Homo sapiens: one gene and its partners. The protein of the gene in region 4 purifies or fractionates together with the protein of the main gene of each other region. This does not show direct contact. Each region holds a gene or a part of one and is shown on either strand. Other genes may lie near its edges.

Region 1 (3,256 bases), on a different chromosome or scaffold from region 4:
GAGGGCTGGGCAGTGTCCTCCCCCTCACAGCCACCTCCCCTCTCCCACACAGCCGACGACAACGCCACCATCCGTGTCACCAACTTGTCAGAGGACACGCGTGAGACCGACCTGCAGGAGCTCTTCCGGCCTTTCGGCTCCATCTCCCGCATCTACCTGGCTAAGGACAAGACCACTGGCCAATCCAAGGTGGGCAGGCAGGCAGGCACGGTGGGGCTGTGTGAGGGTCACTTGTCCTAGGGTCGCCTGTCCTAGCTCGTGCCCGACCCCATCCCGCCCCTCCACAGGGCTTTGCCTTCATCAGCTTCCACCGCCGCGAGGATGCTGCGCGTGCCATTGCCGGGGTGTCCGGCTTTGGCTACGACCACCTCATCCTCAACGTCGAGTGGGCCAAGTAAGACTCCATCCCTGCCCCAGCCCCTGCTCCCTGCCTTGTCCCAGCACCTTCACGGAGTGTTGGGCCAACCAATAGCCCTGAGCCAATTTAACAGTCCCCCGGCTGGTTTTGAGGGGACAGTCCTTTATTGTTTTTTTCCAAAACCGGGCAGAGGGGTGGCAGCTCTTGTGCCTGGGGTCCCTGCCAGTCCGTGGACCAGGCCTGGAGACTGGCCATCTGGCTCCGTGCCCGCTTCGTCCTCACATTACCCCGTCCTCTGCCCACCCACCCCCAAGATGCCACTTGGGTGTCTGGGGTCTTGGGGTGCCCCCAGAAGTCTTATACCTGCCACCCTCCCCTACCCCAGGCCGTCCACCAACTAAGCCAGCTGCCACTGTGTACTCGGTCCGGGACCCTTGGCGACAGAAGACAGCCTCCGAGAGCGCGGGCTCCAAGGGCAATAAAGCAGCTCCACTCTCTCTACTTGGTTCTTTTTGTTCTTGCGTCTCCAGTCCTGTGGCGGGGGCCAGTGCCTCCCCTCCTCTGGGCGTGGTCTGGTCCCTGACCCTGCAGGGAGCCCTGTGGCCAGCGCTGTGGGTGGGAAAGGCGACTGCTCCTGCCTGGGCTGCAGCTGGGCCTGACCTGGCTGCAAGCACAGGTGTTGCTTTTTGGGGGAAGGGATGTGTCGGGGCTCGGGCCCTGCCCTCAGGGTTCTCCAGCAACACCTAGGGTGAGGAGGCAGCTTCCGCTAGGCCACATCATTGGCTCAGCTCACGGGACTGGGGCTCTGACGGTTTAGGGGCGGCTGTGGCATTGAGGGGCAGGGCTTGGCCAGTGCTCTTGGCGTCCTCTGGGTTCCAGCTGTCCCTGTAGCCGGGGCAGTGTCGGCAGCAGCAGCCCAGGCTGGGCACTGCGGCCATGTAGAGTAGAGGGTGGACACAGAAGGCCAGGGGCATGAGGCCCCGCATCACCTGGTAGCCCACGTAGGGCCCCAGCTCCAGGGCTGCTGTGGCCTGGGCTATGTCTGCAAAGCTCGGGCAGCGGGTGCTCCAGCGCCGCCGAGCATCCACGTTGAGCACCCGCATGATGTGGTAGGGCACATAGGAGCTGGCGTAGAGGGCCACACCACTGGCCACCAACGCTGCCACACGCAGCTTCTCGGCCACAGTCATGCCTGGGCTGCGTAGCACGGCCCGCCCGAGGGCGCCGTAGGCTGCCAGCGTGAGCAGCAGCGGCAGGCCGCAGCCCAACCCCGCCAGCACCAGGCTATACGCTCTGTAGGCCGCCAGCCCGTGGTCTGCTGTCCCCAGACACTTGATGCAGGCCTCGGGCCTGGCCACGCTGCAGTTGCCCGCCCCCTGCTGCGGCCTCTTCAGGTGGGAGAAGCTGAGTGTGGGCATGGCCAGCAGGGCGGCCAGGACCCAGCCGGCAGCGCTCACGGCCCAGGCGTGCTTGGGTCGCAGGTGGCTTCGGGCGAAGAAGGGGTGCACGATGCCCAGGTAGCGGTTGAGGCTGATGCAGGTGATGAAGATGACGCTGCCCAGCAGGTTGCAGGTGAAGAGGAAGCGCTCCAGGCGGCACGCGGCCTCCCCATAGCGCCAGTGCTTGGGGGGATAGAGGTAGGCGGCCAGCGGGGGCAGCGTCAGGGCGCAGAGCAGGTCGCTGACTGCCAGCTGGACAGAGAAGACCACGGCGGGGTGCCATGGGCGCTGCTTCCGGATGCTGAAGCGGTACAGGGCCAGGCCATTGCTGGCCACGGCCACCAGGAACTCAACCACCAGTATGGGCCACAGGAAGTCCCCCTGGAACCCACTGAGTTTGTCGTCGGCAGCTGCCAAGAAGTTGGCAGGGCAGGACTTGGCACCTGTGGGCAGAAGGTGTCACCAGCTGAGCCCTATTCCCCCATAAGGCGGCTCCTGCTACCCCAAGAGCCCACGTCTGCCATGGCGTGGATCCCTGGACACGAGTTCTTTCCCCTCCCTGGAGGGGGACCGGGCTCCACTCCTTTATGTGGACAGGATTGAGGCTCAGAGCCAGGGTTATGCATTGGGCCCCAATGGACCAGCTTAGGCGGGCCAGGCAGTCTTGGAGCTCAAGGTCCACTGGTAACACAGACAGCGGCCACCCTACTCCCCCACCACACCTGGCCCCACTAGAGGCCTCCTCCCCAAAGTCCAGCCCCAGCAAGGCCTGCCGGCTCCACTTCAGATCTGTGCCGTCCAAAGCCCCGTGGGGGTCCAGCCCCCACTCTGCCCTGACCTTGGCACCCGCCGCCGCCCAAAGCCTCTTCTCCCCGTGGCCACCAGAGAGCACCCGCGAGCGCTGGAGTCCTGCCCCATCCTTTTGCTTCCAGGTGCTCACACTTGGCCAGGGAGTTGCCGCCAAAAAGCCAGACTCACCCCACAAGGTCCCCCAAGAGCGCTCCCGCCCGCCATACCCCCCAGTGCCACCCTCTGTGCTCCGCGACTCACTCCCTCGCACCAGCCCACCCAGGCTTCCTGGCTGCTCTTGCAGACTTGTGCCTTGGTACCTTCGCACCCAGACTTTTTTTTTTGAGACAGAGTCTCACTCTCATCACCCAGGCTGGAGTGCAATGATGTGACTTCAGCTCACTGCAACCTCTGCCTCCCGGGTTCAAGTGATTCTCCTGCCTCAGCTTCCTGAGTATTTGGGACTACAGGCACCCACCACCACGCCTGGTTTAATTTTAAATTTTGCATTTTTAGTAGAGATGGGGTTTCCCCATGTTGGCCAAGAGGTCTCGAATTCCTGACCTCAGATCTGCCCGCCTCAGCCTCCCAAAGTGCTGAGATTACAAGTGTGAGCCACCGTGCCCAGCCACACCCAGACATTCTTGAGGCTCCTCTTCCCACGTCCGTG
Region 2 (3,500 bases), on a different chromosome or scaffold from region 4:
TTAGGTATATACCACTACTTGGGAAGCTTAGTCTGCCCCTGCCCCAACCTTGGGCTGGGGAAAATGGTGTGGGACAACATATTCCTAAGAGCAAGCCAGGATTCTCTGGGGTTCTGCAGGATGGAACTTGAGATGAAAGAGTTATCACTCCCCTGAAGGAAAGCTCCATTTCTGAACCCAACAATGTACTATTTCACCTCCAAGGCAGGAACAGTGCTAACTGAACACCCCTCTCCTGTTCTCACCTTGGGATCCTCAGGTGGCTCTGAGAGGGGTGGGGGGTGGAGAACAGACAGGTACCCTTGAATTTACATAGTATAAAGCTATAGGTGTGCAAAAACTGGAAATGGGGAAGGAGGCAGAAGACTCATAGCTTCCATTAGAATACCAAGGGCTCGCCGGGCACGGTGGCTCAAGCCTGTAATCCCAGCACTTTGGGAGGCTGAGGCGGGTGGATCAGGAGGTCAAGAGATCGAGACCATCCTGGCAAACATGGTGAAACCCCATCTCTACTAAAAATACAAAAATTAGTTGGGCATGGTGGCGTGCGCCTATAGTCCCAGCTTCTTGGGAGACTGAGGCAGGAGAATTGCTTGAACCCAGGAGGTGGAGCTTGCAGTGAGCTAAGATGCACCACTGCACTCCACCCTGGGCGACAGAGCGAGACTCCGTCTCAAAAAAAAAAAAAAAAAAAAAAAGAATACCAAGGGCTCCATGATGACTTAAAATCCTACCCAGCTCGATACTGTTTCAGGGCCTTCTTGCTTGTGTTGGTGAGTTCTTCATCAAATACAGATTTCTTCCCCTGCTTTTGCTTCTTGGCTGTGCACAGAGAGAATGGGTTACATATGGTTGTCTTTGGCCCAAGCTCCTAAATCCCCTTAAGTTCAAGGTAATGATTCCAAGTTCAGTGGATACTCTGGCATCCAAAGACTATTTTCATTCTGTCCTCACCAGCTCCTCCAAGTAGCAGCTGGTGAGGCCTTAGGCTCCGGAGTCAGAAAAGCTGGCGTTCAAATCCTAGTTCTCAACAACCACAAGGTCACTGCGCCCCTTAGACCGTGGAGGGATAGCTGTACACATTGGTACATACTAATTACTCAAATAATGTGGGCTACTGTCATCATCCCTCAGATTTTCTCCCTGACCCAAAGCACAGGTTTCAGGGAAAACCTTGTACAAGCTCCTTTGGGCTCCCCATTCACCTACCAGGACCTCTCACTGGCTCCTCCTCGGGCATTGCTCGGGCCCGCTTGGCTCTGCGATTCCTCTTCGCTAGCCGTTCAGCAAACATCTGCGCCTTGAGGATTTCAAACTGAGACCTTTCCTCTGCCTAGGGGGAGTGGGGAGGTGTGAGTGTGGAACACACCAGGCCACTCTGACCCACCCCACCGAGTGGGCCCAAACTCCAAAAGGGAGGCCACTCACTGTCATCTCCCCCTTTTTTTTGGCATCCTTCATAAACTTCTTCCTTTTCTTCTTTCCTCTTAAGGCCAAGTCAAATTCCTGCAGAGCTTTGGCAACTGGGATGAGAAGAAAGCATAAGATTTCAGGGATGATTTTATCTTTTTTTAAGCTTACGATAAGAAGTGCACGTTTTCAATTGGTAAGTTAGCAGATTAAAATGAAAAGCGGCAAGCACTTCTTGGCCGAGTGCAGTAGCTCGTGCCTGTAGTCTCAGCACTTTGGGAGGCTGAGGTGGGTGGATCACCTGAGGTCAGGAGTTTGGGATCAGCATGGCCAACATGGTGAAACCCCGACTACTAAAAATACAAAAATTAGCTGGGCATGGTGGTGCACCTGTAATCCCAGCTACTTGGGAGGCTGAGGTGAGAGAATTGCTTGAACTTAGGAAGGGGAGGCTGCAGTGAGCTGAGATCGCGCCACTGCACTCCAGCCTGGGCGACAGAGCGAGACCCTGCCTCAAAAAAAAAAAAGAAAAGAAAAGCCGCAAGCACTTCTTCCACTGATTACCTCCATCTCACTAAATAACATGCTTTTTTGACTATTTCTCAATCCACTTAAGATACTCATTACAAACCTCCTGCTATGAAGGATGAAGATTTAGGTCACTTTACTACTTTACCCACCAATACAGTTATAACTCTATTTTTATCAGAAATTTAAGTTATATACACCCTTATTTTGTCCCATCAAATATAGACAGCATTTCTAAAACTGCTGGTATACCCTCTAGGAGGGAAATTTTGCAACCTCTAACAAAACTAGAAATACAAATATCCTCTGACCCACTATTCCACTTTTAGGAATTAATCCTGCAAGCCAAATATACACTTGCTTAATTGTAAAAGGGCATATGTGCAAGGTTATTCCCTACATCACTTGTTTGTAATGACAAATGATTATTTTTTGGGTTTTTTGTTGTTGGTGGTGGTGGTTTGAGTCGGGGTCTCATTCTGCCGCCCAGGCTGCAGTTCAGTGGCAGAATCTTAGCTCACTGCAACCTTGACCTCCCCAGGCTCAGGTGATCCTCCTACCTCAGCCTCTCAAGTAGTTGGACTATAGGCATGCACCACCATGTCTGGCTAATTTTTTGATTTTTAGTAGAGATGGGGTTTTGCCATGCTGCCCAGGCTGGATGACAAATGATTGTAAACAACCTCAATGTCCCTCAACAATCTACTCATATGATGGAAGAACATGAAGCCATTAAAAAAAACAAAAAGGGGGCCGAGTGCAGTGGCTCACACCTGTAATCCCAGCACTTTGGGAGGCCAAGGCAGGCGGATCACGAGGTCAGGAGATCGAGACCATCCTGGCTAACACGGTGAAATCCCATCTCTACTAAAAATACAAAAAATTACCCAGGTGCGGTGGCAGGCACCTGTAGTCCCAGCTACTCAGGAGGCTGAGGCAGGAGAATGGGGTGAACCCAGGAGGCAGAGCTTGCAGTGAGCCGAGATTGCGCCACTGCACTCCAGCCTCAGTGACAGAGCAAGACTCCGTCTGAAAACAAAAAACAAAAAGGGCAGCATATGTGGGCCTATATAAAACATATCTCTAAGCTTCAAAATTAAGTGAAAAGGCGAGGCATAGAACAATGTGAACTTATAAGTGTTTTGGGTCTTTTTTAAAGGGAGATGGAGAGGAAATCTGTATTAAATATCTCCTAACTTTTTTAAAATTATTTTTATTGTGGTTATATATACACATATAAAACAAAGGCTGCCATTTTACCCAATCTTAAGTATACAATTCAGTGGCATTACTTACATTCACAACATTGTACAACCATCACCACTATCTGTTTCCAAAACTCCTATCAGGAGGCTACTCACTGACATCATTGAAAACAGAAGCTCTGCAACCACTAATAATTTCCTATAACCCCCCTTCCCCTAGCCCTAAGTAATCTATAATCTATTTCTGTCTCTGTGAATTTGCCTAGCTAGATATCTCAGGTAAGTGAAATCAGACAGTATTTGTCCCTTTGTGTCTGGATTATTTCATTCAGCTTAAGATTTTCAAGGTTCATCCTT
Region 3 (4,166 bases), on a different chromosome or scaffold from region 4:
CAAAGCCAAGAGTACAGCAAATATAAAGACAGAACAGGAAGGTGAGGCATCTGAGAAGAGCTTGCATCTGAGCCCACAGCATATCACACACCAGACTATGCCTATAGGACAGAGAGGCAGTGAGCAAGGCAAACGTGTGGAGAACATTAATGGAACCTCCTACCCTAGTCTACAGCAGAAAACCAATGCTGTTAAGAAATTACATAAATGTGATGAATGTGGGAAATCCTTCAAATATAATTCCCGCCTTGTTCAACATAAAATTATGCACACTGGGGAAAAGCGCTATGAATGTGATGACTGTGGAGGGACTTTCCGGAGCAGCTCGAGCCTTCGGGTCCACAAACGGATCCACACTGGGGAGAAGCCGTACAAGTGTGAGGAATGTGGGAAAGCCTACATGTCCTACTCCAGCCTTATAAACCACAAAAGCACCCATTCTGGGGAGAAGAACTGTAAATGTGATGAATGTGGAAAATCCTTCAATTATAGCTCTGTTCTGGACCAGCATAAAAGGATCCACACTGGGGAGAAGCCCTATGAATGTGGTGAGTGTGGGAAGGCCTTCAGGAACAGCTCTGGGCTCAGAGTCCACAAAAGGATCCACACGGGGGAGAAGCCCTATGAATGCGACATCTGTGGGAAAACCTTCAGTAACAGCTCTGGCCTTAGGGTCCATAAAAGGATCCACACAGGTGAGAAACCTTACGAATGTGATGAGTGTGGGAAGGCCTTCATTACTTGTAGAACACTTCTCAACCATAAAAGCATCCACTTTGGAGATAAACCCTATAAATGTGATGAGTGTGAGAAATCTTTTAATTATAGCTCTCTTCTCATTCAGCATAAAGTCATCCACACTGGAGAGAAACCTTATGAATGTGATGAATGTGGGAAGGCTTTCAGGAACAGCTCAGGCCTCATAGTGCATAAAAGGATCCACACAGGAGAGAAACCTTACAAGTGTGATGTCTGTGGCAAAGCATTCAGCTATAGCTCAGGCCTCGCAGTCCATAAAAGCATTCACCCTGGGAAGAAAGCCCATGAATGTAAGGAGTGTGGGAAATCCTTTAGTTATAACTCACTACTTCTTCAACACAGAACTATTCATACCGGAGAGAGACCTTATGTATGTGATGTGTGTGGGAAAACGTTCAGAAACAATGCAGGCCTCAAAGTCCACAGGAGGCTCCATACTGGGGAAAAACCATATAAGTGTGATGTGTGTGGGAAAGCCTATATCTCACGCTCTAGCCTTAAAAATCACAAAGGAATCCACCTTGGGGAGAAGCCCTATAAATGTAGCTATTGTGAGAAATCCTTCAACTACAGCTCTGCCCTTGAACAGCATAAAAGGATTCATACCAGGGAAAAACCCTTTGGGTGTGATGAGTGTGGTAAAGCTTTCAGAAATAATTCTGGCCTTAAAGTACATAAACGAATCCACACTGGGGAACGACCTTACAAATGTGAAGAATGTGGGAAAGCATACATCTCTCTCTCGAGCCTTATAAATCATAAAAGTGTACACCCTGGGGAGAAGCCCTTTAAGTGTGACGAGTGTGAGAAGGCCTTCATCACATACCGAACCCTTACAAACCACAAAAAAGTTCATCTTGGGGAGAAGCCCTACAAATGTGATGTGTGTGAGAAATCTTTTAATTACACATCGCTCCTTTCTCAGCACAGAAGGGTCCACACTAGAGAGAAACCCTATGAATGTGACAGGTGTGAGAAGGTCTTCAGAAACAACTCAAGCCTTAAAGTTCATAAAAGAATCCATACTGGGGAGAGGCCCTATGAATGTGATGTGTGTGGAAAAGCCTACATCTCACACTCAAGCCTTATTAACCATAAGAGTACCCACCCTGGCAGGACACCCCATACATGTGATGAATGTGGAAAAGCTTTTTTCTCAAGCAGAACTCTTATAAGCCATAAAAGAGTCCATCTTGGGGAGAAACCCTTCAAGTGTGTTGAGTGTGGGAAATCTTTCAGTTACAGCTCTCTCCTTTCTCAGCACAAGAGGATCCACACAGGGGAGAAACCCTATGTGTGTGATAGGTGTGGGAAGGCCTTCAGGAACAGCTCAGGCCTCACAGTGCATAAAAGGATCCACACAGGTGAGAAACCCTATGAATGTGATGAGTGTGGGAAGGCATACATCTCACACTCAAGTCTTATCAATCATAAAAGTGTCCACCAGGGGAAGCAGCCCTATAATTGTGAGTGTGGGAAATCCTTCAATTATAGATCAGTCCTTGACCAGCACAAAAGGATCCACACTGGAAAGAAGCCATACCGATGTAATGAGTGTGGTAAGGCTTTTAATATCAGATCAAATCTCACCAAGCATAAAAGAACCCATACTGGAGAGGAATCTTTAAATGTGATATATGTGGGAAGTTATAGTGGCACATCCCAGAAGAGAACCTATGAGGGAGGGAATGCCCTGGATGGGGGCAGGATGAGGATGCCTCTGTAGCAGGCAGAGCTTACCAAGTCTCTCCGAACTCAAATGGAAGAAATACCTTATGAATGTAAGAATGTAGGGGGTCATGGCTTGTAATTTACACAGTGTAAATGAAACCATCCTAGAGGATTATGAGGAATCCTTTCTATGTGATTTTCAATCATAGCAAGCAAGAAAGGCTCCAGTGTCAAGGTAGTTCAGCTCTTACAGGATATAAAACAGTCCATACTTGAGAGAAAAACTTAGATCTGAGTGATGGAATGTGAAGCAAATCTTCAAAATCAGTAGACATTTCTGGACATAAAACACAGATGAGGAAAGGGCTTCAATTAGAAGTTACGTAATCACCATCAGAAAGTTCATGTTTGGTAAATTCTGTTACTAGAAATGTAGGAAATTCAGGTATAGCTTTGAATCCCAATTACACATTGGTCAGTGGGAAAACTAAGGGCCTCCAACAGGCAAATTCAGGGAGGATAGGTTTCAGGGAATATAAATTTATTTAATATTAGTGGTCTTTAAGTATAAACTTGATGTAATTGGTTTGGGAGGGGGCAGTGATGATGACTTCTGAAACAAAATTTGGATTTCCTTTTAGGAAAAGTAGAAAGCATAGACTTACAAGTCTAACAGGAGATAGGAGAGAGTCACTCATAAAAAATGCAAATTGATGAACGTACTATTGTGATACATTAGTTGAATGGATGAAACTTTTTTAAAGTTTCAGATGAACTCCCATAATGAATGATGAATTTGTGATGAGGGATAACCTGGAAGTGGTATTCACACATTATGCTACAATAAAAGGTTCTACCGTGGAGAGGATTTTGACACATTCAGTAACTAATGGAACACACCGTCAACATGAATTCGCACCTTACATGACAGAAGTGATTCAGGGATTCCTATGAATAGAAATGCTGAGAAGGAACGCATTTTATTGCAGAAGCTAAAAAGCTAAAGTACCAGTCATCTAGAGAGAAGGAAATTAATGTTTCTTAATAATCCTGTTAAATGTTTGATTGTTTTTGGAATGTGTTATTGTAAAGATGTCATGCAGGACATGTATATGTTGTCTGTTGTAAAATGTTAACGAATACTTTGTTCAGGGCTCACTCTCTCTTTGTCATGAAAGCCAGCTCCTTGTGGCGAGGTAAAGTGGAATTCCAATAAAGAAATTCCTTAAATCAAAACGGGCTGTGAGTTTAGATGGAGGATACCCAAGAGCCATTTGTGTGCCAGATCTTTGTTGGGTAAGTTATACCAGATCCAAACCAGAGAGGGTAGTAGACTCATCCCACAGGGCTAGCAGCTCAGCTGGTTTCACCAGAAGTTAGAAGGTGCCTCCCTAGGAGGAGCACAGGATAGATTTTGAGGGGACCACAGTGGAGCCATGTGATCGTCGTTACTGGGCCAGATCCTAACTCGGGAGCAGGTAGGTTGTGTGAGTGATCAGTCACCACACACAGCTCTGTCAGGAACATGTAGAATTGAACATAAACTACTGCTGTGTATGAAGCTGTTAACTAGGTAACTCAAAGGGTAAAAATAGACTCTTCTGAGAATTGAGTAACCTGTCTGAGAATACTGTGAGTGGGCCAATCAGCAAAGGCTGAATTTGAAGTCTGGTATCTGGTTTCAAAACCCATTGTCTTTACAAGAGAACAATCTCAGCCATGTAGTTTCCCATCTC
Region 4 (3,285 bases):
AAAACTGTCTACCAAAGCAACAGTCACCATGCAGAACAAAACGCCTGATCTTTGTTTTCATGCAATTAACCCCTAAGGTTTCACAGATATGTACACAACAACATTTATCAAATTATACACTTACATGTCACAAACAGGCAAAGATTTCTGGTTACATGATAAAAGATTTATGTATATTACAGAGCTTTCTATGAAGTCTCTGGAAGTTTCAAATTATAACACTCTTACTTTTATATATTAAAAAAGTCCAGTTGTGAAAACTGCCCAGGTACCATAAGCCACAGGATATCAGGGCAGAATACAGAATTATATACAGATAGACTGCCAGTTACATATGCTGAAAATTGGTCTTATCTGGTCACAGCTAAGTTTCACTGAATTTACTAAGGCCCTTCCATTTATAGCTAATTCATCTCTGGAAGAATCTCTGCAATGAGTTTTCTTCTAACAACATTCTGACACCTTACCTATAGCACTTCACTTTGGTGCAGTCTTTTTGAATGTGTCCGAATTCTCCACAAGAATAGCATTTCTGCTCATCTGCATGGTCGCAGTCACGAGCCAGATGGCCTGGTTTGCCACAGTTGTAGCAGCATTGCTCTCGCTCTCTCTTGGGCTCCTTGCAGTCCTTGGCAATGTGGCCACCTCTACCGCAGTTATAGCAGGCTTCAACAATAAGGAAAAGAAACAGGCCAAGACTATAAAACCTTTACAAAGTGTTACGTTTTAAATTATACAATACAAAACCTCAAAGGTGGAAATGCTATACACAGTTGCATGTGCTCACCTCTCCAAGCTCTAGAGGGGTATGAAAAGGAAGTGTTAAATACTTACCATCCTCCTGAAGATCACAATCCTTGGCAAGATGACCAGACTCACCACAGCGATAACAAATGTCTGGAAGAGACGAGGAAACAAACTGGAAACCTGTTTTGAGCAAAAACAAAGAATTCGGCTAGTCAGACCAGTCTTGATACTAACAAATACTGAAGTACTTCAAATTTTTCTATTCGACAAAATACCTCTATCCGAGGTAAAACCACCTCTGCCACGGCTTCTCATTCCACGACCACGGCCTCCACCAGTAGGACATTCCCGGGCCCAGTGGCCAGATCGTCCACACTTGAAGCACTCATTGCTGCTCATGGCTGCAGTCAGATCTTTGAAATATTAAAAGTAACAGCATTAAACCACTGAAAGTTCTTTTAACTTTTATTCTCTATTAAATGTATTTTTGGAAAATTATTCTGGGGAAAAAAGCTAGCTAATATATTGGTTAAAAAAATAGCTGGGCATGGTGGCTCACGCCAGTAATCCCATCACTTTGGGAGGCCGAGGTGGGTGGATCATGAGATCGAGACCATCTTGGCTAACATGGTGAAACCCCGTCTCTACGAAAAATACAAAAAATTAGCCCGGTGAAGTGGCAGGCGCCTGTAATCCCAGCTACTTGGGAGGCTGAGGCAGGAGAATGGTGTGAACCCAGGAGGCGGAGCTTACAGTGAGCTGAGATGGTGCCACTGTACTCCAGCCTGGGCAACATTGAGACTCTGTCTCAAAAAAATAAAATAATCACACAACTACATGATTGGGTATTATAGACTTATTATAATATACACCTTGATAAAAGTGATGGAATTTACAGGGTTAGGGTCAATGAAAATCCATTAAGAGAAATAATTGGTAGTGGCTGGGCACGGTGGCTCATGCCTGTAATCCTAGCACTTTGGGAGGCTGAAGCGGGTGGACCATCTGAGGTCAGGAGTTTGAGACCAGTCTGGCCAACATGGCGAAACCCCGTCTCTACTAAAAATACAAAAAACAGCCGGGCATGGCGGCATGCGCCTGTAATCCCAGCTACTCAGGAGGCTGAGGCAGAAGAATCGCTTGAACCCGGGGGGTGGAGGTTGCAGTGAGCCGAGATCATACCACTGCACTCCAGCCTAGGGGACAAAGTGAGACAGACAGGCAGGCAGGCAGGCAGGCAGGCAGGCAGACAGGCAGACAGGCAGCCAGGCAGGCAGGCAGGCAGGCAGGCAGGCAGGCAGACAGACAGACAGACAGACAGACAGACAGACAGACAGACACACACACACACACACACACACACACACACACACACTGGCAGTAATACTCATTCACTCATTCCAAGTCCAACTTAATGGACACATTTGCATGGTTATAAGGCCTATATAAGCTTTATTTTGGGCAAATAGAAGTCATTTATTTACTCACATCAAAAAATTGGAATAACCCAAACCAATGAAGCTGTAAAATGGATTCTCGGAGTGAGGAGTCAGTGAAGGAAAATACTCTCTTAACCTTAGCACCTGACGTAGTACCTAGTTATACTGCAGCACTTGCCTGGTGACTGAGATATTCCTTAGAACAGATATGTTAAAACAAATGCAAGATACAAATCTTATCTCTAGATGGTACAAGTACAGTAGGCCCTCTATATCCATGGGTTCTGCATCCATGGCTTCAACCAACCTTGGAATAAAAATATTCAGTGGAAAAGTTGCATCTGTATTGAACATGCAGACTTTTCTTGCCATTATTCCCTAAACAATACAATGTTAACAACTACTTATTCAGCATTTACATTGTGTTAGGTATTATAAGTAATCTAAAGATGATTTTAAAGTATATGGGAAGATGTGCAAAGGTTGTAATGCAAGTACTACACTATTTTATATTGGGAACTTGAGCATAGGAGGATTTTGGTATTTGAGGGAGTTTGTGGAACCACTTCACAGATACCAAGAGATGACTGTATAATAAAAATAGTAGGAAAACGACCATGAGTTACACCAAAGCGCTAATAATAGCACCTACAGCACTGGCAACATTTGTGTTTTGTTTTCTTTTATTCTCCCCTTTCCAAATGTTTCTGTAATGTAATTTTACATTTTAAACAATGCTACTTAGAATTTCATAATAAACTCCTTTAATTGGTTATCATTTTAAAATAAAAATAAAACTCCCACTAAAGCAAATGGATTTTGTACTTATGTAACAATCTAAAAATAAATTGAGGCTATTCTTAAAATAGAATGAAATGGAATAGAACATAATGAAAACAATGCAACTACATTTTCACACTTCCATATCTAAATATTTTTACCCTTAATTCCACTGTCAAACAATGGCACACAAAGTCGTATTTTAAATATCCTCTCAAACCTAAGCACAGGCACCATCATCTAGAAAAACATATTTCCAACTGAGTAAAACTTGAGTGGATAATCGAATTAGCTAACCTAACCACAGTGCCAAAGACCC
Region 5 (3,500 bases), on a different chromosome or scaffold from region 4:
GAGGGGAGACATGAGGGAGTGAAGAGAGGAAAAAAAGAAAAAGAATATAAATGTATCAGCCAGGCGTGGTGGCTCACGCCTGTAATCCCAGCACTTTGGGAGGCTGAGGCAGGTGGATCACCTGAGGTCAGGAGTTCACGACCAGCTTGACCAACATGGAGAAACCCCGTCACTACTAAAAATACAAAATTAGCTGGGCATGGTGGCACATGCCTATAATCCCAGCTACTCAGTAGGCTGAAGCAGAAGAATCGCTTGCACCTGGGAGGCAGAGGTTGTGGTGAGCCAAGATCGCGCCATTTGCACTCCAGCCTGGGCAACAAGAGCGAAACTCTGTCTCAAACAAAAAAAAAAAAAAAAAAAAAAAAAAAAAAGGTAAACATGGTAAATTATATGGGTATACTTTAACTCAATAAAAAATAAACTAGGCCAGGCATGGTGGCTCACACCTGTAATCCCAGCACTTTGGGAGGCCAAGGCAGGCAGATCACTTGAGGTCAGGAGTTGGAGACCAGCCTGGCCAATATTGTGAAACCCCACCTCTACTAAAATACAAAAATTAGCTGGGTGTGGTAGCGGGTGCCTGTAGTCCCAGCTACTTGGGAGGCTGAGACAGGAGAATCACTTGAATCTGGGAGGTGGAGGATGCAGTGAGCCGAGATCATGCCACTGCACTCCAGCTGCCCTGGGCTACAGAGCGAGACTCCATCTCAAAAAAAAAATAAAAATAAATAAATAAATAAAAAAACTAAGCTGGGTGCAATGGCTCAAGCCTGTAATCCCAGCACTTTAGGAGGCTGAGGCAGGCAGATCCCTTGAGCCCAGGAATTCAAGAACAGCCTGGGCAACATGGCAAAATCCTACCTCTATTAAAAATACAAAAAATTAGCCAGGTGTGGTGGTGTGCACCTGTAGTCCCAGCTACTCAGCAGGCTGAAGTGGGAGAATCACCTGAGCCCAGGAGGATGAGGCTGCAGTGAGCAGAGGTTGCGCCACTGCATTCCAGCCTGGGCAACGGGAGTTAGGCTCTGTCTCAAAAAAATTGTTTAAATAAATAAGAAACTATTCAAAGCCAAAGATTTTGTTTTAAACTAGAAAGCTTCAGAAAAGTGACATATTACATTACAGGAAATGATTTAAATGACCATGGGTTTCTCAACAGAAACCAAGAATGCCACAAGGCAGTACAGTATCTTTAAAATCGAACCAGTGTAATGGCTCACATTTGTAATCCCAGTACTTTGGGAGGCCAAGGCAGGGGGACTGAGCCCATGAGTTCAAGACCAGCCTGGGCAACATAGCAAGACCTTGTCTCTACAAAAAATAATTTTAAGGCTGGGCGCGGTGACTCGCGCCTGTAATCCCGACACTTTGGGAGGCCGAGGTGGGCAGATCACAAGGGCAAGAGATCAAGACCATCCTGGCCAACATGGTGAAACCCCATCTCTACTAAAAATACAAAAGCTGGGCGTGGTAGCATGCGCCTGTAGTCCCAGCTACTCGGGAGGCTGAGGCAGGAGAAATGCTTGAACCCGGGAGGCGGAGGTTGCAGTGAGCCAAGATACACCACTGTGCTCCAGCCTGGTGACAGAGCGAGACTCTGTCTCAAAATAATAATAATAATAATTTTAAGAACTTAATTGTACATTTTTAAATAACTAAAAGAGTGTAATTGGATTGTCTATAACACAAAGGATAAATGCTTGAGGGGATGGATATCCCATTCCCCATGATGTGATTTCACATTGTATGCCTGTATCAAAACATCTCATGTACCACATAAATATATATCCTTACTATGTACCCACAAAAATAAAAATAAAAAAATTTTAAAGCAATTATCCAGGTGTGGTGCCATGCAACTATAGTCCCAGCTACTTGGGAGGCTAAAGTGAGAGGATCCCTTGAGCTGAGGAATTTGAGGCTTCAGTGAGCTATGACCGCACCACTGCGCTTCAGCCTTGGCAACAGAGTGAGACCCTGTCTCTAAAAAGAAAAAAGAAAAGGAAAAAGAAATATCTTTAAAATTTTGAGAGAAAAAATTTGTCAACTCAGAATTCTATATTCAGTGAAAATATCCTAAGAAATAAAACTAAGAGAATTCATTGTAAGCAGACCTGCTCCATATGAAATGCTAAAACAAATGATTCCAGCTGAAGAAAAATAATACCAGAGAGAAACTTGGATTTTTAAGAATGAAGAAAGAGCAACAGAAATGGTAAACAGGCCGGGGTAGATGGCTCACACCTCTGTAATCTCAGCTACTTGGGAGGCTGAGGTGGGAGGATCACTTCAGCCCAGCAAGCAATGAATGTGCCACCAACTCCAGCCTGGGCAACAGAGCAAGACACTGTCTCTTAAAAAAACAAGAGTAGGGGCAGACACTAAGCATTCAAATAATCCAAAAGAAGAAACACAGGAACAAAAAACAATGGATAAACAGAGAACAAAAAATAAAAGGGCAGACCTATCCAACCATATCAATAATTAATTTAAATGTTTACAGTCTAAACACTCCAGTTAAAAGTCAGCAAATGACAGAGTAAAATAAAAAGTGATACCCTACTACATGCTACCTACAAGAAGCACACTCTAAAATATAAAGACATCTATAGATTGAAAATAAACAGATGAAAAAATTGTATCATACAATCAGCAAACATAAGGCTGGAATGACTATTTTAATATCAGATAAAACAGACTTCAAGACAAAGAGTACTGCCAGAGATAAAAAGAGACACTTCATAATGACAAAAGTGTCAAATCATTGGGAAGGCATAATTACCCACTGTATGTGCCTAATAATAGAGCCTCAAAATACACAAAGCGAAAACTGACAAAATTAAAGGGAAAAATAGACAATTCCACAATCTTAGCAGAAAATTTAAGACCTCCCCCTTTCAGCAACTGATAGAACTAGATAAAAATTCAGTAAAAGACATAAATGATCTGAACTGCACTATTAGCCACCTTGCTCTAGTTAACATTTACACAACACTACATCTAACAACTGCAGGATATATATTCTTTTCAAGTGCACATTATGCATTCATTAAGCTAGATCTTACGCTGGGCCATCAACTTTAACTTTTATTAAAAGGATGAGAATTACACAGTGTATTCTCTGACCACATTGGTATCAACTTAGGAGTCAATAATAGGAAGATATCTAAAAACAAAAAACACAAAAAATCCAAATATCTGCAAATTAAATAATCTACTTCTAAATAATTCATAGGTCCAAAATGAAATCACAAATGAAATTTGAAAATATTTTGCACTGAAAAACAACAAAAATATGCATATCAACATTTGTAGGATGCAACTAAAGCAATACTTAGAAACTTAAAGCTTTAAATGCTTATACTAGAAACGATCTAAAATCAATGACTTAAGATTTCATCTTAAGATACCTTAAAAGGAAAAGCAAAGTAAACCAAAGAAAAGGTAAGGTAAGAGGAGAAACCCATGAACTAGAAAACAGACAATAGGGGAAATGT
Region 6 (3,500 bases), on a different chromosome or scaffold from region 4:
ATTCATATTAGGATGATTTATGTAATAATTTACAATGAAGTTATATCCATGACTTACTATTGAATGCTTATTCAACACAGGAAGAACAAAGTTATTAACTTCTCTGAACTTTTACCATATACAAACTCACCTTCTTATTACATGTAACAGGCAAATTCCCAACAAACACAGTTCTCTCATTCTTTAATCTCTCTTCTTCTTGGTTGATTTGAATTTTCTTTCTTTGACTGACAACTGTGTCTTCTGTGTCATCAAGTATTTTTCTATCTGCTACTTTAACACCAGGTTGAGAATTTTTCCTTTTCTGCCCTTGTTTCTGGTGAATTTCTTCTTCTAAATCAGCACTCGCTAGAGCGCTTTCCCTTTTTAAGGCAAAAAATAAAATAAGCAGTAAGAGTCATGCCAGTTAGGTCTAGTATTTGACAAAGCACAGCCCTACCCTCCCGACTAGAAATATTTCCCAATGTCTTCTGAATTTTCCTAGATTTACTACTCACAAATATATCAAAATTTTTAGAGCAGCGCTATCTAGAAACTGACTAGTATCTTTAGAAAAAAAATGATTTAACTCAAGATTTAGAAAAAGTTAAGCTCTTTTTTTTTTTCTTTGAGACAGGGTCTTGCTCTGTCACCCAGGCTGGAGTGTAGCAGCGTAATCACAGCTCACTGCAGCCTCAACCTCCCAGGCTCAGGCAATCCTCCCACCTCAGCCTCCCAAGTAACTGGGACCACAGGCGCATGCCCCCACACGTGGCTTTTTTTTTTTTTTTTTGAGACGGAGTTTTGCTCTGTCACCCAGGCTGGAGTGCAATAGTGCAATTTCGGCTCACTGCAACTTCTGCCTCTCGGGTTCAAGCGATTTTCCTGCCACAGCCTCCCAAGTAGCTGGGATTACAGGTGGCTGCCATCATGCCAGGCTAATTTTTGTATTTTTAGTAAAGACGGGGTTTCACCATGTTGGCCAGGCTAGTCTTGAACTCCTGACCTCAAGTTATCTGCCCACCTTGGCCTCCCAAAGTGCTGGGACTAAAGGTGTGAGCCACCATGTCCAGTCTTTTATACATACATATACATATATATATATATATATATATATATATATATATATATATATATACATATATACTTTTTTTTTTTGAGACAGAGTCTAGCTCTGTCTCCCAGACTGGAGTATAGTGGCGCAATCTCGGCTCACTGCAACCTCCGCCTCTCTGGTTCACAACGATTCTTTTGCCTCAGCCTCCCAAGTAGCTGGGATTACAGGCACCTGCCACCAAGCCCAGCTAATTTTTTTTTTTTAGCAGAGACGAGGTTTCACTGTGTTGGCCAGGCTGGTCTCGAACTCCTGACCTCTTGCTCCGCCCGCCTCAGCCTCCCAAAGTGTTGTGATTACAGGCATGAGCCACCGCGCCCAGTCTCCTTTTATATTTTTTTGTAGAGACAGGGTTTTGCTATGTTGCCCAGGCTGGTCTTGAACTCCTAAGCTCAAGCCATTCGCCCACCTCAGCCTCCCAAAGTGCTAGGGTTACAGGCGTGAACCACTGCACCTGGCAAGAATAAGTGAAGCTCAATTTTTGAACACGTTAAATCTGCCATGCAACAGCAGCAGCAAGTTCATCTATACAAAAGCTGATTCACTTAAAGCTCTTGGAGATTTAGTTTACACTCTATCAATGCCTGATTTCATTTTCTACTCTAGACCTTTAGGGGCACTATCACACTCCCTGAGAGTCTAAAAAGGTTAATATGGCAGCAGAGTACTTACTCTGTACAAGCAATATGGCTGATAGGAAAAACCAGATTCCCTACTTCTAATACTTCTGTAATATTTAAAGGACTCTTACCAAAAGTAAATTGTGAAACGGTAAATACAATATAAAGTATTGCTGGATATGGATAAGCAAGGTCTGAGCATCAATCTGAAAGGAGAACTAAAGGATATTAAGGAGTGAGGGAAGAGAAGAGCTAATAAGAATCATAAAAATGACTCACTCATCAGCAAATACTTACCGGGTTCCTACTCAGTTCTAGGCTCTGAGGATACAAAGATAAAGAAACAATCAAAGGCCTCCAACAGTGCAGTGAAGAGACAGACCAAGTTCACAATAAAATGGTAACAGCTATAATACATGGTATGCAAACATAAACGAGAAAGGCTTCTCAGAGGAGGAAATCAGTGTCTGGCACATAGTCCAATAAAAGCTGACTGCTATTACTCCTCCCCTGAGGACAGGGTCCATGTCTAGTGTTTTGCTCACTACAGTATATAAAGTACCTAGCAGGTGTGAAAGGAAACGAGACAGTACAGTAAGGTGGGAACCAGGTCAGGAGAGACCTTCAGTGTTACACGAAAGTGCTTAGATTTTATCCTACTGAAGATGAGGAGACACTGAAGACTTTGAGAGCATCTAAAAAAGATCATCTGGGCAGAAGAGTGGAAGATAATTAGAAAGAGGATAAGGTTGGAGAAGGGAGACCAGTAAGGAGATGGTTACAACAGTGTGTATCTGAGAAGACTGACCAGACTGACCAGAGCAGGGAAGGAGGTGAAGACGAAAAGGCAGATTAAAGAGATAATTAAAAAACAGCATCATCAGGACTCGGCAACTGATTAGCTAAGCAAGGAGAGGAAAGAAGACAGGATGACTCTCGGGCCACTAACTTAGGCAACTAGAAGGCTAGTGGTAGCGCTCATGCCAAGGAACAGGACTGATGAGAATGATGAGCTCCCAGTGGAGCATTCTTACCTGGTGGTACATATGGAATAAAGAGGTGCAAATGCCAGGAGGCAAACAAACATACATGTCTGGAGATCAGGAGAGAGATCACGGTGGGCACAAGAGATACTGCCCCCAACAAAGGGTGACAAAGGGTCACAAGAACATGACCAAGAATGAGACCCCTGAGGGAAATGCACATTTAAAGAGTAGTCAGAGGAAAAGATACCACAGTAACACTAAGAAAGAATTGGCAAGAGGACAATCAGAAGAGATTTCTCTCAGAGAATCCGGTAGCTTCAACAAGAAAAGCAGCCACGTGAAAGGTAACAGAGGACTCATAAGACAAAAGCTGCACTGCCCATTACATATGAGAGGTCAGGGTGGCCTCAGTGGGCACTGCTTCAGTGGCACAGTCAGGACGGAGAATAAAACCCACCACCACCAGAATCCAAGTGCGTGGAAGGGTGAACAGATCAAGAGAAGGGAGAGAGTACAAGAACAGACTACTTTTCTTAAAAGCTAGACTGAAGGGAAGGACTGTGGGAATGGTAGCAAACAGAGACATGCAATTACATGGGTTTTTTTTTTTGGCGGTTAGGGGGAATGTCCTTTTTAAAGATTAGAATCGTGAGCACGTCTATATTAGCAGAAAGAGGGATAAGGGCCAGGCGCGGTGGCTCACGCCTGTAATCCCAGCACTTTGGGAGGCCAAGGCGGGTGGATCACCTGAGGTCAGGAGTTCAAGGCCAGCCTGGCCAACATGGTGAAACCCCATCTCTA
Region 7 (3,500 bases), on a different chromosome or scaffold from region 4:
GCCAGGCTTTGAATCCCCAGTCTGCTGCTTCATAGTTGGTTAGCTTTAGGCAAGTTATTTAGTACCTCTGGTTTCAGTGTCATTGTTTGTAAACTGGAAGTAACAACTAGCTACCCCATAGGGTTATCCTGAGAATTAAATTGAGCTGATGCTGATGAAGCCGGTAGCACAGTGTAAGTACTCAATAAATGGTAGCTGGTATGGCATTATCATTTTTCCTCTTTAATTCCTCTTTGTGCTTTTAAAAATCTTTTAGGCTGCTGTTTCAGAGAAACAACAAACTCACAGTGCTTTTTCCCATTCTCTCACTTCACAACAACAATCAACATAGAAGACTTCTGTAACCAAATGTGTGGGCGTTTTTCACCACATATCAAGCAGCAGCCACCAGCTGGGTGTCCTCTAATTTAGTTTCATTTTCTGATGCTGTCTTCCTGGAGATAGCCTCAGATCCCACAAGATGTCCCTCCTCCCCGCAACCAGTCGATAAGTCAGGGCCTCTGGAACTTCTGACCAACCAGCTTCAAGTTGGGGTTCTCATGACCCCCCGCTTTGGGTTCAATTAATTTGCTACAGCAGCTCTCAGAACTAAAAGAAACACATTTACCAGTTTATTATAGAGGATATTACAAAGAATATAGATGGGGAGATGTATAGGCTGAGGTACAGGGGAAGGAGCATGGAGTTGCCATGCCCCTCCTGGGTACACCACCCTCCAGGAATGTCCACATATTCAGCTTATTCAAAAGTTCTCCAAACTCTGTCCTTTAGGAATATTTATGGAGACTTCATTGGGTAAGATGATTAATTAAGCCATTGGCCTTTAGGAAGTAGTGCTGCAAGTCCCAACCTTCTAATCCTGCCTTGGCCTTTCTGGTGACCAGCCCCCATCCTGAAACTACCTGGGGGGCTATCAGCCATCAGTCAATAGTTTGTCATTAGTATACAAAAAGACATTACTTTTGAGATTCCTTTGCCAGGAAACAGGATGAAGAGCAAATACATATTTCACTGTATCACAGGTGCTAATTTTGGTTTAGCAAATCTCTATAGTCTTCCCTTTTTTGGGGAAGGAGCTGGGTCAACCTTTGTGGAGTCAAGATGAATCAAATACAGTCCCAGCCCCTAAGAAGTATTGGATCCAGCAGAGGAGGTGAGATGACCACAGCCATAATTTAAGGCAGAAGGTATTAGAAAATTACAAAATACAATGGAAGAGAGAGGTAACTTCTAGTTTGGGAGGTTGGAAAGTACTTTCTAAAAACATGCCTGGCATTTAAGGGTGAAGAGGATTTGGACATATAGAGGCATTAAAGGAAGGAGCAAAGAAATGGGCAGTGTTCAGGGGCACTTGGCTCACAGTGAGAAGAGGGTATGTGTTGGGAAAGGAATAGTTGCTGAGGCTGGAGGGGTAAGTTGAGGGCAAGTCACTAAAGGCGCTGAGTGTCAGGTTGAAGAGTTGGGCCTTTATCCTGTAAGTAAAGAAAGGCAAATCTCATTTCTAGAACTCTTATGAACAGTTCATAGTGGCTACTTAAAGTACTGTATTGAAAAGGATACCTAGATGTTATCTGGGCCCAGTGGAGAAGACTGTTGTGCTTGATTAATGGTGTGTGCCAGGGGCTCAGTGGGTGTGTTAGCAACCATGCCACATTATCTATGGATAAAATATATATAGGAGTAGAGACCGTATAACCCAGGGATTAACATGGTCTGTGGAGCTGGGCTGCTTAAATCCTGGATAAGAAGTGACTGCTGTGGTCTGGCTGCATGGTCCTGAGGACCTGAACCAGGGTCAGGGGCATGGGAGGGAAGAGCCTACACAGTGAATGGGCTAAACCTGGGAACATTTTGAATGTGGGACTAAGAGAGGAGGGCTAGATTGCTCTACAATGCTGCAGAAGTTTCTACCTGCCTGGCTGGGAGGTAGGAGGGTCTGGTTTGGGGATGTGGCCCTGAGGAGAGGACCAGTGTTTGGCAGTGGCCATGTATTGATCTCCCAGTTCTTCCTGTGGCAGGTCCCACGTACCTCGGAGATTTATGTCCACCGAAGTGGTCGAACTGCTCGAGCTACCAATGAAGGCCTCAGTCTGATGCTCATTGGGCCTGAGGATGTGATCAACTTTAAGAAGATTTACAAAACGCTCAAGAAAGATGAGGATATCCCACTGTTCCCCGTGCAGACAAAATACATGGATGTGGTCAAGGTAGAAAGCAGTTAAAACCCCAGTGCTAATGAAGGGATTGTGCTGCTCCCTTGCAGAGCACCTTGCTGTGGGACTCTGGCAGCATAACCCTTGAAAACTAAGGAATGGTTCTGCCAACAGCTGAACAAGGAGACTTGTAGAAAGGATTGAGAGCAACATACCTGGGAAAAGGGAGAAAAGGGGAGTGACTGAAGGTGGGAGGCATTTTCTCCCTGAACCATTTCTTCCTTCTCTGGCCCTGAAGTCCCCCCTCCTCACCAGACAGTGCAGTGGTCATGGCTGTCTGGATATCCTGTCAGAGGGTTGTAGACAGTGTGGTTAGTGTTTCCTGCTGAGGCAGATGCTACAGGTTTGGCACATCCCTGGAGCAGGTGCCAGTAAATTCTGTCTTTTGGGTTTTAACTCAGCAGGCATTCCCCAGGTAGGTGCCGCTTACCATGGGACACTGTATTAGTGACCAAAGTGGGGTGGGTTCTCCTTCCCAGAGGTTTGCCAGCTGTGAATAAAGTTCAGGTACAGTGGAGCAGTATGGAATTACTGGGCATATGGTTACATTGGGAGGAGAAGAGGTTCTATCCCAGCTTCCTGCTGGCAAAGATGTGGAAGGGTACAGAGGAGGTGGAATTCCAGGAATTGAGGGAGCAAAACCATGGCACAGTTCAAGGAATGTTGGCTTCTCTGGCTCAAAAGGAATATTAGCTGTGTGGGGAAATAGGGTGGAGATAAGGATGGAAAAGTGGAAATCATAGAGAATTCCCATTAGTAAGGAGGATTAGGAGCCACCCAGGCTTCCCTTGGTTTCTTTCCCCACATCACAAGATCCTTCTCATTTTGCCACTGCACTGTAACCCCAAAACCCTCTAGAGGGAGAGTTGAAATGTTTTATCTTAGCTCAGCTGTGGAAGCAAGCTGTGGCATCTGCGTAAAGACTTCACTTTGGTTACCTATAGGTTGGCAGTCAAACCAGTAAGGGTTTTCAAAGGATGTGGCTGTTCAGGTTGATTGTTGGGAAAGCTGGCAGTTGTGTTTAGATGTGTACACACAGACGGGTAATGGTTGCCCACTGGACTTTTATCAGGAAGCAATAAATGCATTTCAACAGGAACTGAACTGCATCTCACCACTGATCTCAAGAGCTTTTTATTTATTTATTTTTAATTTTTAATTTTTAATTTTTTTTTGAGACGGAGCTTTGCTCATGTTGCCCAGACTGGAGTGCAGTGGCACAATCTTGGCTCACCACAACCTTCGCCTCCCGGGTTCAAGTGATTCTCCTGCCTCAGCCTCCCAAGT

What was found.
Region 1: the proteins of CNBP (region 4) and PPAN-P2RY11 purify together in Homo sapiens (affinity purification with mass spectrometry, with the first as the bait; 2 studies listed by BioGRID). This does not show direct contact.
Region 2: the proteins of CNBP (region 4) and DDX27 purify together in Homo sapiens (affinity purification with mass spectrometry; 2 studies listed by BioGRID and IntAct, with this or other methods). This does not show direct contact.
Region 3: the proteins of CNBP (region 4) and ZFP62 purify together in Homo sapiens (affinity purification with mass spectrometry; 2 studies listed by BioGRID and IntAct, with this or other methods). This does not show direct contact.
Region 5: the proteins of CNBP (region 4) and ZNF512 purify together in Homo sapiens (affinity purification with mass spectrometry; 2 studies listed by BioGRID and IntAct, with this or other methods). This does not show direct contact.
Region 6: the proteins of CNBP (region 4) and RBM34 purify together in Homo sapiens (affinity purification with mass spectrometry; 2 studies listed by BioGRID and IntAct, with this or other methods). This does not show direct contact.
Region 7: the proteins of CNBP (region 4) and DDX24 purify together in Homo sapiens (affinity purification with mass spectrometry; 2 studies listed by BioGRID and IntAct, with this or other methods). This does not show direct contact.

Annotation. Positions count from the first base shown.
Region 1 is NC_000019.10:10,112,617-10,115,872, reverse strand, and holds the end of PPAN-P2RY11 (PPAN-P2RY11 protein), read right to left. Parts: intron 2,241-3,256; coding exon 1,135-2,240; 3' UTR 760-1,134; coding exon of another isoform or gene 744-759; 3' UTR 501-743; downstream 1-500. Other genes in the region: EIF3G (eukaryotic translation initiation factor 3 subunit G), read left to right, coding at 53-189, 288-394, 744-759; P2RY11 (P2Y purinoceptor 11), read right to left, coding at 1,135-2,240. UniProt on the Homo sapiens protein: May have a role in cell growth.
Region 2 is NC_000020.11:49,239,916-49,243,415, reverse strand, and holds part of DDX27 (probable ATP-dependent RNA helicase DDX27), read right to left. Parts: intron 1,524-3,500; coding exon 1,429-1,523; intron 1,334-1,428; coding exon 1,210-1,333; intron 823-1,209; coding exon 735-822; intron 1-734. UniProt on the Homo sapiens protein: Probable ATP-dependent RNA helicase. Component of the nucleolar ribosomal RNA (rRNA) processing machinery that regulates 3' end formation of ribosomal 47S rRNA.
Region 3 is NC_000005.10:180,847,111-180,851,276, reverse strand, and holds the end of ZFP62 (zinc finger protein 62 homolog), read left to right. Parts: coding exon 1-2,485; 3' UTR 2,486-3,194; coding exon of another isoform or gene 3,195-3,214; 3' UTR 3,215-3,666; downstream 3,667-4,166. UniProt on the Homo sapiens protein: May play a role in differentiating skeletal muscle.
Region 4 is NC_000003.12:129,170,612-129,173,896, forward strand, and holds part of CNBP (CCHC-type zinc finger nucleic acid binding protein), read right to left. Parts: intron 1,161-3,285; 5' UTR 1,147-1,160; coding exon 1,023-1,146; intron 928-1,022; coding exon 835-927; intron 673-834; coding exon of another isoform or gene 667-672; coding exon 468-666; intron 1-467. UniProt on the Homo sapiens protein: Single-stranded DNA-binding protein that preferentially binds to the sterol regulatory element (SRE) sequence 5'-GTGCGGTG-3', and thereby mediates transcriptional repression. Has a role as transactivator of the Myc promoter.
Region 5 is NC_000002.12:27,589,542-27,593,041, reverse strand, and holds part of ZNF512 (zinc finger protein 512), read right to left. Parts: intron 1-3,500. UniProt on the Homo sapiens protein: May be involved in transcriptional regulation.
Region 6 is NC_000001.11:235,154,751-235,158,250, forward strand, and holds part of RBM34 (RNA-binding protein 34), read right to left. Parts: exon of another isoform or gene 1,916-3,500; coding exon of another isoform or gene 1,845-1,915; intron 363-1,844; coding exon 131-362; intron 1-130.
Region 7 is NC_000014.9:94,053,703-94,057,202, reverse strand, and holds part of DDX24 (ATP-dependent RNA helicase DDX24), read left to right. Parts: intron 1-2,018; coding exon 2,019-2,207; intron 2,208-3,500. UniProt on the Homo sapiens protein: ATP-dependent RNA helicase that plays a role in various aspects of RNA metabolism including pre-mRNA splicing and is thereby involved in different biological processes such as cell cycle regulation or innate immunity.